Regions from separate parts of the Homo sapiens genome. Here all the other regions are linked to region 1. Evidence: fine-mapped expression QTL. A gene starts in region 1. Each other region holds a variant in brackets. All regions are shown on one strand. Distances are between the middles of the regions.

Region 1 (4,000 bases):
GGAAGTGCGGGGATTACAGGCATGAGCCACCATGCCCTGCCATGAAAGTTCTTAGGGGTTGAATCACAGTGCCAAATAGCTTTATAAAGAGATTATTTCAGTTTACACTCCCACTCACCATGTCTGAGAGTACCCTTTTTATCTCACCAGCCTTGACTGTTATCTTTCACTTAAATATTTACTAATAGGATACCCAACTAAAATGTTGCAATTTTTGGTCTGTTTGCTGTTGCAGAAGATAGGATAAAATCAAGGCTTTTGGAGTCAAACATATATTTGGGTTTGGTCACTGCTCTGCCACTTCCTAGTTTTGTTACATTGGGGAAATTACTTACCTCTTTTTAAGCTGTCTTATTCATCGATTTTTTTTAAAGGGTCAATAATAGTATTTATCCCAGAGGGTTTTTGTAACCATTAAAAGAGACAGTCATGTAAAAGAATTTCACACCAGTGTCTGGCACCTGACCAACAACAGTGAATCCTTCACTTTCAGTTGCAAAAGTGTGTTATATAATTTCATTTGATTAGTGTACTATGTAGGAATTTACATAATACTTTTTTTTCTTACCTACTTCATGGGAAGTATTACGTAATACTTTGACTATGCCTGCAACCTGATGTGGTAGGCTGAACAATAACCAGGATAATTCTTGCACCCTAGGGAGAGGTAAGGAGTGATCTTTTGGTGGTCCCTAAGAACCACAAGAACCTATTTGGTCGCAAGTCACACACCTGGTTCCCATCCTTGAGGAATTTGCTATCTAAAGGCCCTTGAGTTTAACCCTTGAGTCTCTTGGGGGCTTTTAATTGTTCGGAGAGGTCTCAAAGGGCAATAGTGGAAACTCACTGAAGAGGCAGGCTAGTGAAAGTGATTTGCAGATATTTCCTGGAAAAGCTACTGTCTCACCTAAGGTAAATGCTAAGGCAGGAAGTATAGGAGTTATTTGTCCTATAAAAGTAAGTATACTCAGGCGTTTTGTTATTTGAATCTAAAGTTTGTTCACAAAAGATAAGCTAAAAAAAGTATTGCAAACAGGGCAAGCCAGGCGAATCTGATTTTGTGCGCTTGCTGTTTGTATACTCATAGCAAGTTTTGCTCCCTGAATCATCCCAGCAGACAATACTGAGGGGACTCAGCATGGATTAGATGACAGAAGACTGATCCAGAAGTCAGGAGCTTCCTGTCTCATCCCAGCCACTAACTAAAGTGAGTGGGCTAGACTTAGTCTTAAGATCGAATGCCTAACTTTCTCTAAATCTAGAATTATGTAGGTTTGGCGGCTCTTTGGGGCCCTACTTCCAACTTTTTCTTGCTAACCAACTCCTTCCAACTGCCAAAGCATGTCGTTGGTAATAAAAAATTATCACACATCCTTGCTTGGATTAAAATTTGCACTCCTGATTTGGGGTCTTATCCATTGAGGTTTTGGTGAAGTTTGAAAATTGTCGCTGAAAAATTAAGTTTTTCTAGTTGGCTAAAACCTGCCAAAATAATGTAAACGTTCTTTGTTGCAAATCTAAATTCCGCTCAGGTAGGCCCTTTTCTCCTTCCCAGTCCAGGATCTTCAAACCTAACAGCCAAGTCTCACGCTTCATTTGGTCCCCGGCTCCCTCTGGGAAGAATTCCTCCTCTGGGGGCGACGGCAACGCCCTCAGTGAGTTTGCTGGCACCAGCGGGAGTTTCAAGTTTCCACTCGTTGGGGAGGCGGCGGGCACACTCCGAGCTTTGGGCTGGGCGGCTCCGCTTCCCTCGACCGCAGGTTTAGCTGGAGCCCAGCGCTCTCTGGAAGGGCTCGACCCTCCGGCGCATTCGCCCTATTTCCCTGGGCGCTCCCGAGCCCGCAGCCACCCACCTCGCGTTGGCCGGCCCCAGACCGCGACCCCCGGCCACGCCCGGAGCCAGGCCTGCGGCTGCGAGCCTGCGGGAGGGGCGGGGCGGGGGCGGCCCCCAGCGGCGGCGTTGGCGCTCAGTCCGCGGCGCGAGGACGGCCGGCCGGCAGGGGGAGGCGGGGGGGCGCCGGGCAGCCCCGCCTTTTCCCGCGGAGGCGCCGAGCGGCCATATTGCGGAGCTGTCTGCGGTGGCGGCGGCGCCTCTCGTCTCCCGCGGGCCAGCGCTCGCACCACCGCTTCTCCCTCCCTGTCGCAGCCGCGCCGCCGCGCAGCGCCCCAGCCACACGCCGGCGGGCAGAAGCCGCCCGCTCTCCGGGTAAGGCGCGGCGCCCTCCCTTCCCCCACTCCCCGCTCCCGGTTCCTCCGGAGACGCTAAGGTGGCGGCGCGAAGTTGCGGGGCCCGTGCTGCCCGGCCGTGGCGCCGCCGCCAGGGCTTGGCGCGCCTCCGCTCGCGCCCAGCTGGCCGAGGCGCCACTGTGGTAACGGCCCGGCCGGCCAGGCTCCTCCCGGGGCTGGTAGGGGCCGCGAGGCCCTGCCCGAGTCGTGGCTGAGCCGCGGCCCGAACGTGCCTGGCCGGGCCAAAGTCGACCTTCGCCGCCGCGGGATTCTCCTTTCCTCGGGGCGCGGAGTCTGCCTTCAGCGCCGGTGTCGGACCCCCAGCGCCCTGGGGACGGTGGGCTCCCGCTGCCTGGACTGGGCCCCGGGCCCGGGCTGGCATGGTCCCAAGGGTTGTTTGAAAATCCAGATATTCAGCGTAGGTAGAATTCGATTTTACATTTATTAGAACTTGTTCCCCGGCCTCCAGTTTGAAAGGAGGGGTGTTAAATTACTAGAGAGCGTGCGTTCCGCCCCAGTGGCAAAGGGGATGTTGCATGACAGGCTTTGGGGCGCCAGTCGCTCCCGCCGCTCGCACCCGCCAGGCCAGGGCCGCGGTTCCCGGCCGCAGCTCTACCTGCTGCTGTTGCAGCTCTCGGAGCCCTGTAACTTTCTCGGGCCCTTGAGGCCGCTCAGTTTTAGTGTCTCAGACCCCACCAGACAAGTTCAGTACATGATATCCCTCTTTTCCTTTAAAGGATTCTAAACTCAATTCCCGGACTAACTTTGAAAGGGGGCAGTGCATTTTTGTTTTTTTTTTTTTTTCAGTTTAAACAGACTACATCACTTCCTAGACAGATGTCATGTTTCTTCAGACATTCCCAATATTTGGTGGTTTTTTTTTTTCCTTAAAGAGTAGTTACTAGGTTGGAAATGTGTTAAAAGTCAACTTCATAAAAATATATTTTAAAATACATTTGAGATTTTGGTGGAAGACACGTTGCTGAGGAACTCGATGGCATTCTTGTGGCACTAAGACTGGCAGGATGTAAATATAAAAGTCTAAGATAATAAGGGTTTATTTGATAAACGAGTACTTTGACATAGACATTGTAATCTATTGTTTAAGGAGCATACTTCTTTTTTTTTTTTTTTTTTTAGAACACTAAATACTCTTTTATATGACTGATGGAGCTAAGAAGGAACAATTACCCCGTTCATGTTGCTGGATAAATAATGGCTTGATCCATTTGCCAAAACAGCATCACTGGATTTGAGAAAGGAGACTAATATTCAGGATTGCAGTTTTTTATTTTCAGAATTTCTTTGCTTTCCCCAGTGTGCTTTATCTTCCAGAGATTAATAATACTTTCCTTCAAATACAGCAACATGTAAAACACTCCTTTTGAAGTTAATCGTATGCTGTAAAGACGATTGCAGTGACTTTCTTTGCTTAATCGCTTTTTTATATATGATGGAATTTAATAAACAGTTGGTATATTATTAGCAAGGAATGAATAGACATTGGCATTCTTTACAGTTTTATTTAAATGAGACAGAATTTGATTGTGGCATTGAAAAAACGTTGAGTTCTTGACCTTAGGAATCACATACAATGTTTTGTTCACTCCTGTATCCCCACACATGGAAGAGTATGTAGGAGAGTCTCAGAAGTAGCTGTAGAATAGATGTAATTAATTTGGGTGTAGGGAAAATACGTTGAGTCTGTCCTTTTGTTTTTTTTTTTGAAATTGTGATTAATTAACTGAAAGTCAAATTGATTACTTTCCTTTTG
Region 2 (4,352 bases), 57 kb after region 1:
TTCACTGATGCAAAATATATTGGGAATGTTGTGCAGCCATCACCACTATCCAGCTACATAATTATTTTCATCTTGTAAAACTAAAACTCTGCACCCATTAAACAATCCCCATTTCCCCCCTCCCCACAACCCCTGGCAACCATCATTCTACTTTTTGTCTTTGTGATTTTGAGTATTCTACCTGTATAAGTGGTATCATACAGTATTTGTCTTTTTGTGACTGGCTTATTTCACTTAACATAATGCCCTCAAGGTTCATCCACGTTGTAGCATATGTCAGAATTGCCTTCCTTTAAGGCTGAATGATATTCTATTTGTATACCACATTTTGCTTATCTGTTGATGGGCACTCAGGTTGCTTTTGTGTTTTAGTTATTGTGAATAATACTGTTATGAACATGGATATTCAGGTATTGGTTTGAGACCCTACTTTCAATTCTTTAGTTATTTGTTTGCTTGTTTAGATGGAAGATAAAACCATGAGCTTTGTGGGTGTTGTTTTATATATCAGTCAATCAGATGAAAAGAATTAATTATTAAAGTTTGAGGCTGGGTGCAATAGCTCACACCTGTAATCCCAGCACTTTGGGAGGCCAAGGCGGGTGGATCACCTGAGGTCGGGAGTTCGAGACCAGCCTGGCAAACCTTGTGAAACCCCATCTCTACTAAAAATAAAAAAATTAGCTGGGTGTGGTGACACACGTCTGTAATCCCAGCTACTCCGGAGGCTGAGGCAGGAGAATTGCTTAAACCCAGGAGGCAGAGGTTGCAGTGAGCTGAGATCGTGCCACTGCACTCCAGCCTGGGCAACAGAGTGAGACTCCATCTCAAATAAAAAAAAGAAAAAGAAAGAAAGAAAAGTTTGATAGGCCAGCTTGATTATCTGAATTTTAGAAGGCAGATTCTAAAATGAGTAATCGTAGAATATCGCTATGGTAACATCCAGTGCCGTATACATTTTGTCTTTATAGCCAAATAGCCACATAGAATTTTTATATTATTTATTTTTTATTGAGGTAAAATATACACATATAATACAGAATGTACACATCTTTGCCCCCCCGCCCCTTTTTTTTTTTTTTTTTTTGGAGACAGAGTCTCACTCTGTCGCCCAGGCTGGAGTGCAGTGGTGTGATCTCGGCTCACTGCAACCTCCGCCTCCTGGGTTTAAGTGATTCTCCTGCCTCAGCCTCCTGAGTAGCTGAGGTTACAGGCGCCCGCCACCACACCCAGCTAATTTTTTGTATTTTTAGTAGATATGCAGTTTTGCCATGTTGGCCAGGCTGGTCTCGAACTCCTGACCTGAGGTGATCTGCCCACCTCGGCCTCCCAAAAGTGCTGGGAGTACAGGCATGAACCACCGTGCCTGGCCATTTTTACCGTTTTTTTTTTTTTTTTTGAGACGGAGTCTTGCTCTGTCGCCCAGGCTGGAGTGCAGTGGCGCCATCTCGGCTCACTGCAAGCTCCGCCTCCCGGGTTCACGCCATTCTCCTGCCTCAGCCTCCCGAGTAGCTGGGACTACAGGCGCCCGCTACCACGCCCGGCTAATTTTTTTTGTATTTTTAGTAGAGACGGGGTTTCACCGTGTTAGCCAGGATGGTCTCGATCTCCTGACCTCGTGATCCGCCCGCCTCGGCCTCCCAAAGTGCTGGGATTACAGGCGTGAGCCACCGCGCCCGGCCTATTTTTACCGTTTTTAAGTATACAGTTCAGTAGTAATAAATACATTTCTATTCTTTTTCTCCTCCCTTCAACTCCCCCCACCCACTTCCTGGCCTTTGATAACCACCAGTTTATTTATCTTTATGAGATTTAGCTCTGACATATGAGTGAAAACATGCAATAGTTGTCTTTCTGTGCTTGGTTTATTTCACTTAACGTGATGGCTTCCAGTTCCATCCATATTGCTGCAAATGACAGGATTTCATTTATTTTTATGGCTGAATAATATTCCATAGTGTATGTATACCACATTTTCTTTAAGCACTTAGGTTGACTTCATGTTTTGGCCATTGTGAATAGTGCTGCAATAAACGTAGGAGTACAACTATCTCCAATATATTGATTTCCTTTGTTTTGGATATTGCTGGATATTGCTGGATACTATTGCTGGATATTGCTGGATACTATGTTTTGGATATTGCTGGATACTATGGTAATTCCGTAGTTTTAGTTTTTTGAGGACTCTATATTGTTCTACATAGCGGCCTTACTAATTTGCATTCCCACCAACAGTGTATGAGTGTTCCTTTTCTCTACATCCCCGCCAGCATCTGTTACTGCCTTTTTTTTTTTTTTTTTTAAAAACAGAGTCTTCCTCTATCACCCAGGCAACCTCCACCTCCCGGGTTCAAGTGATTCTTAGCCTCTGCCACCCAAGTAACTGGGATTACATGTGCCACCATGCCCAGCTAATTTTTGTAAATCCCAAAGTCCTGGGATTTACAGGCGTGAGCCACCTTGCCCAGCCTTGCCTGTCTTTTTGATACAAGCCATTTTGACTGGGGTGAGATGATATCTCATTGTGGTTTTGATTTATATTTCTGTGATTATAGTGATGAACATTTTTTTCATATAGCTTTTGGCCATTTGTACGTCTTTTGAGAAATGTCAGTTCAGATGTTTTGCCCATTTGTAAACGAGATTATTTGGTTTTCTGCTATC[G/A]AGTTTGAGCTCTTTATATATTCTGGTTTTTCGTCCTTTTTTAGATAGACAGTTTGTAGACACTTTCTTCTATTCTTTGTTTATCTCTTCACTTTGTTGGTTGTTTCTTTTGCTGTATAGAGCTTTTTAGCTTGATGTAACACCCATTATCTCTCTTTGCCTGTGCCTTTGAGGTCTTACACAAAAAATCTTTGCCTAGACCAATGTCCTTCTTTCACTTCTTTGGTTAGATTGATTCCTAGGTGTTTTACTTTTTTTTTTTGGCTATGGTAAATGGAATTGCTTTCTTGGTTTCTTTTTCAGATTGTTTACTGTTGTTATATATAAATAGCTACTGATTTTTTTTTTTAATTTTAGTTTTTAAGAAGAGATGATGTCTCACTCTGTTGACCAGACTGGTCTCAAACTCCTGGCCTCAAGCGGTCTTCCCACCTTTCCCTTCGAAAGTGCTGGGATTACAGGCGTGAGCCTAACCAAAGCCTAACCAAAGAGTCATTCTTCTCCAACCCTCTCAAAACCTTCCAAGTGTTTTTTTTGTTTTTTTTTTTTTTTTTTGAGACAGAGTCTTGCTCCGTCGCCCAGGCTGGAGTGCAGTGGTGCAATCTTGGCTCACTGCAGCCTCCGCCTCCTGGGTTCAAGAGATTCTTCTGCCTCAGCCTCCCCAAGTAGCTGAGATTACAGGCGCCCATCACCATGCCTGGCTAATTTTTGTATTTTTAGTAGAGTCGGGATTTCACCAGGTTGGCCAGTCTGGTCTCAAACTCCTGACCTCAAATGATCCACCCACCTCAGTCACCCAAAGTGCTGGGATTACAGGCATGAGCCACAACACCTGGCCTAAAACCTTCCAAGTCTTAACTGCAATTACTCAACTAGTTCTGATCAAGACCAAGAAAATTAAGAACAGTAAGTAAAAGCTTGTAAGTTACAGTTAGCTTTCAAATTTCATGACATATAGATTTTCTTAGTATACAGTAAGGGAAAATAATTCTTTGTAGGACCTTGTACTGTCTTACTAGGTGGCATTCTATTGTCTTCTGTCACAGGGCTTAAATAATTGTCAAAATAATATTTAAAGTTAGTACTGTTAAACTCTCTTAAAAATTTATTTTCCTTTCCTGTTCAACTCATTGGAATAAGAAAAGAGTTGATTTAGTGATCTATGCACCTAAGGATTAAAATTCATGTTATTTATCTCCCAATATTGCTTATCTTCATGCTTTAGGAATGAATATATACCAATAACTCACATTTTTCAATAATTCATATAATCACATCAAAATTCCTATTTTGGGGTCAGTAAATACTGTTTTCAATCTTAATTTCTTGGATTTACTTATTAGTTTAGATAAGTAAAACCTTAATGGAAGTTTTGAAATGTATTATAGATTTCTGAAACATGGCAATTTGTTTACTGAGGTCAAAACTTCAGATGGAGAGATTATTTTTTAAAAATAAAATAGTTACGTGCTTGTAGCCTTTTTACATAACTTGAATTGCAGAAGATTTTCATTTCTCTTTAAAAATTATTAGGCTTTTGCCAAGTTGGAAACGAGGTATAGCGCCTGTAGTCCTAGCTACTTGGGAGGCTGAGGCGGGAGGATTGCTCGAGCCCATGAGTTCGAGGCTGCAGTGAGCTTCTGCACTTCAGCCTGGGCAACAGAGCGAGACCCTGTCTCAAGAAAACA
Region 3 (4,352 bases), 68 kb before region 1:
AATTGAAGGTGGTATGGGCTTCAGTCTTATCTGGCTCTCAAGTATTTCTAATATCACCAACCCCTTTGATTTCTTAACTGTGGAATGAAAATAATGACAGAAACTTTAGGCATCTCATTATATGACTATCGAGGGAGAGGTTTGGGAGTGAAGGATCCTTTTAATACTCCTCAAATCCAGAAATTATTTACTACCAAGTTAATAAAACTATTTCAGGACCTTCCTCCCATCCACCCCACCCCACCCATTTGTATTAATCCCTTTCAAAACCTTATAACTAATTGTGAATTCATCATTTCATATTTTTAGAAGGCCCACAACACTAGATCCACCATTGCCAAAGCACACCAAAATACTCTTTGACAACTTTGTAAACATCCATGCTCTGAAAGGTATGGGGGGAATATCTGTAAGCTCCCCACTGAACTAAAGTTCTCCAGGCCAGGGACCAAGCTTCCCACACTTTTCTAACCCTGTTGCCTAGTACATGTCTGGCACACTTCAGGCATTCGAAAACATTTGTAGGACTGTTGAACAGAAGTAACTATTCATGGATAGGTAAAAGCCTCCCTAAGTGTTTTCTTATTCATGGGATAGTTGAGAGTAAATTCTTATAGAGCTGTGTCTGGTGGCTAGCAGAAAGGCTATACCTACTCAAATCAACAGGCCGCACAGAAAAGTCTCCTTGTCCCCAGAAGGGCCCTCGGGAGTGACTGGAGAGCAGATCCCGCCAGGTCACCACAGTGCTACACTTCAGGTTGGCTCTGTGCCCGGCTGAGGAAAAGGAATCTCTCTCCCCTCCTTGAAAACATGCCTCAGCATATTTATCTGTGAAACAGAGAAGAAAACAAATATGGTATGTGATTTACAAATTCGCTCAAACAGGAATGCAAACTGGTGTGAGACACCAAATGAGAAGAGTGAGAATTTAAATGCCAGTGCCCTGTGATGCAACAATTCCCCCTCTGGGTGTACACCCCAAAAAATGGAAACAGGGGCCGGGCACGGTGGCTCACGCCTGTAATCCCAGCACTTTGGGAGGCCAAAGCGGGTGGATCATGAGGTCAGAAGATTGAGATCATCCTGGCCAACTCGGTGAAACCCTGTCTCTACTAAAAAATACAAAAAATTAGCCGGGCCTGGTGGTGGGAGCCTGTAGTCCCAGCTACTCGGGAGGCTGAGGCAGGAAAATGGTGTGAGCTGGGGAGGCGGAGGTTGCAGTGAGCTGAGATCGTGCCACTGAACTCCAGCCTGGGCAACAGAGCGAGACTCCGTCTCAAAAAAAAAAGAAAAAAAGAAGCAGGGACTTGACCAAATATTTATACACCTGTATCATAACAGCCTTATTCATAACGGCCAAGAGCTGAAGCACCCCAAGTGCCTATGGACAGATAAGTGGATAAACAAAACATGGTGTACACATGCAGTGGAATATTCTTCAGTCTTAAAAAAGAATGACACACCTTTAATCCCAGCACTTTGAGAGGGCAAGATAGGTGGATCACTTGAGACCAGGAGTTTGAGACCAACCCAGGCAACATGGCGAAACTCCATCTCTACAAAAAATTAGCCAGGCGTGGTGGCATGTGTCTGTAGTCCCAGGTATTTGGGAGGCTGAGGTGGGAGGATCACTTGAGCCTGGGAAGTCAGGACTGCAATGAGCCATGATCACACCACTGCACTCCAGCCTGGGCAGCAGAGCAAGACCCTGTGCCCGGCCCAAAAGTATTTTTAATGTCACTGAACTGTACACTTAAAAAGAGTTAACATGGTAAATTTTATGTCTTGTGTATTTTACTATCTAAAAAAAAAGAACAGGCCGGGTAAAAAAACAGAACGCCTGTAATCCCAGCACTCTGGGAGGCCGAGACGGCGGATCACGAGGGCAGGAGATTGAGACCATCCTGGTTAACACCGTGAAACCCCGTCTCTACTAAAAATACAAAAAAATTAGCCAGGAGTGGTGGCGGGCGCCTGTAGTCCCAGCTACTTGGGAGGCTGAGGCAGGAGAACGGCGTGAACCCAGGAGGCAGAGCTTGTAGTGAGCCGAGATTGTGCCACTGCACTCCAGCCTGGACGACAGAGGGAGATTCCATTTCAAAAAAAAAAAAAAAAAAAAAAAGAAGCCAAAATAATACTATCCAGGTGGAACTAGGAAGTAAGGAATATTTCTCTATATTTTATGAATATAAAAATAAGAAGGAATTGAATATTTATTCCATAACTGCTCTGTAATATAAATATGAATTATTTGCAGATATTAATGATAATGCTAATATCTAATGAGGCCCATACTATGTGTCAGGTAATGTGCTAAGGGACTTATGTATACTATCTTAATATTCAAAACCATCCTATGAAGTAGGTACTATTATTATCTTCAATTTAAAATTCAGAAAATGGAGGTTTAGAAAACGTAAATCCTTTTCCCAAGACCACA[G/AG]GTTAGTGAGTAGTAGAACTCAGATCTGGCCTCAGATTTCCTAGCTTTGAGCACCTTGCTCATTTCACATTTTGGGTTCTGTTTCTTACAATCAAAATGTTTGTGTTTTTTTGTTCTTGTTTGTTTTGTTTTTGTTTTTGTTTTTTTCCTTTTTGAGACAAGGTCTCGCTCTGTTGCCCAGGCCAGTGTGCAGTGTCGCCATCTTGGCTCACTGCAGCCTTGACCTCCTGGGCTCAAAAATCCTCCCACCTCAGCCTCCTGAGTAGCTGGGACTGCAGCAGCCATGCACTACCACACCTGGCTAATTTTGGGTTTTTTTTTTTTTTTTTTTAGAGATGGGATCTCACTATGTTGCCTAGGCTGGTCTTAAACTCCTGGACTCAAGCAATCCTCATGGCTTGGCCTTCCAAAATGCTGGGATTTCAGGCGTGAGCCACCACACCTGGCCTGTGGTTGTTTTTGTCTTAAGTTAAACACTTCTTTAAGGAATTTGTAAGGATGGGAATTTGAATTAGGAGACTCCAAATGGCATTTATGTGTCCAGAGGATATAAGAGTTGAACAGCAGCACTTCTTACAAAATTGTGCCTAAAACAATGCCTTGGCAAGCTGCCCCTCATATTCACTGAGGAACCGAGGTACTCAAGTCAAAATCCCAAGGTAAAGGGACTGGGAAGACACTAGCAACAGTGACCATGTCTTCCTTTTCAGGTACAGATAATTTTGTAAAATAATTCTAAAATGACACTGTAATTTTTTTTACTTTCAGACTTCATAGCTGTAATTTCTGACACATTGCTGAGTATTAATTTTTAAAATAAGCATAACCTGGGCAAAACATTGGAACCAACTGAGAGATCTAGTGATTGTATTCTGATAATTTATATTAATAGGAATCTGCCTTTCCCCCAAAGGATTAACTGGATGCATTACTGTATTTGCTTTTCACGTGTATGTGTATTGCGTGTGTGTGTGCGTGTGCTTGTGCATGTATGTGTACTGTGTGTGTGCGCTTGTACACAAAATGGTGGATGAGCACATGTATTTACCTCTTCTATCTTCCACATTCCCATAAAAGTGACAGAAAATATTCTTTAAAGAAAATGAGTGAATAACAGCAATAGGAAACAAGAAAGAGTGTCATCAGCACACAAGAGTTTTGGGAAATTTCTAAAAGATACAAAGCAGATGGATGAACTGATGAGAAACTGCAGGCCAGGGCACAGGAAATAAGTATGTGTCTTCCCAAGGGGGCCCAGAGAAACTCCTCACTTGGTCAACAATACAATGATGGGCCGTGCGGGCAATCAACAGTGGCCTCATTAAAGAACTGGATTCAGTGCCTTGGGACAGCTGGGCCCCTTTCCTGTGACCTGTGTAAACAAAGCTAGGCAGCTGAGACTTTTGGCCTCGGGCTACAAGCCAGGGCACTGCTTTTTAGAAAGAAAGGGCAGAGAGAGTGTTCCTCCGGAGGGTCTTGTAGCTTAAAAGGAGATAACTGAAGAAACTTTGAATCTCTACATTTATAAACTCAGAGGGGAAACAATCAAACTCAAAATGCGTCTCTACCTCCTCCTGGGGAAGCTCAGGTTCCCCAGCCTTCTTGCCTACTCTGCCCACAGGAAACCTACAGGGAAGCCTTCCTGTCCAAAAGTCCTGCCTACTTACACAGAACTCGTGCCAGTCATTCTATTCAGGGAAAACCTTCCTGGAGAAACAAACCTAAACAATTGAAGAGGAAACCCACACAAGCTGGTTGTGCTAAATTAAGGCATTTGTTTGGTTCTGAATTCATTCAAATGAATAGACAATAGAGAACACCACACTTCTCAGGAAAAACAATACAAAAGTGAAAGCTTTAGAAAACAAAACAACTGACCCAAAGGAAAAAGATAATCCAAGCAGGGGAAAAT

Alleles and levels. Positions count from the first base shown, and alleles are read on the strand shown. Sizes are in standard deviations (SD) of each study's normalised expression. Not every link is listed here.
In carriers of allele A in region 2, the expression in fibroblasts of the gene that starts at base 2,059 in region 1 tends to be higher than with G alone (small effect, 0.12 SD a copy in GTEx).

Evidence for each region. PIP is the estimated chance that this variant, and not a neighbour inherited with it, causes the effect.
Region 2: its variant is the best candidate, but not a certain one, in a credible set for the expression of RDX in fibroblasts (GTEx, PIP 0.78).
Region 3: its variant is the best candidate, but not a certain one, in a credible set for the expression of RDX in lung (TOPMed, PIP 0.63).

What each region holds. Positions count from the first base shown.
Region 1 is chr11:110,294,673-110,298,672 of GRCh38, reverse strand. RDX (radixin) reads left to right here and starts at 2,059. Exons shown (of 14, transcript NM_002906.4): 1 at 2,059-2,206. RefSeq lists silencers at 1,677-2,476, 2,527-2,576, 2,587-2,686, 2,817-2,876 and an enhancer at 2,090-2,962.
Region 2 is chr11:110,237,792-110,242,143 of GRCh38, reverse strand. All of the region lies in intron 10 of RDX (radixin), which reads left to right. Among named protein-coding and RNA genes, the nearest start is that of RDX, 57 kb to the left of the region's middle. The variant G/A (reference allele first, on the strand shown) is at 2,665.
Region 3 is chr11:110,362,837-110,367,188 of GRCh38, reverse strand. It overlaps LINC02732 (long intergenic non-protein coding RNA 2732), which reads right to left. Exons shown (of 4, transcript NR_135100.2): 2 at 655-828. Among named protein-coding and RNA genes, the nearest start is that of LINC02732, 9.9 kb to the right of the region's middle. RefSeq lists an enhancer at 3,410-3,931 and a silencer at 3,991-4,285. The variant G/AG (reference allele first, on the strand shown) is at 2,441.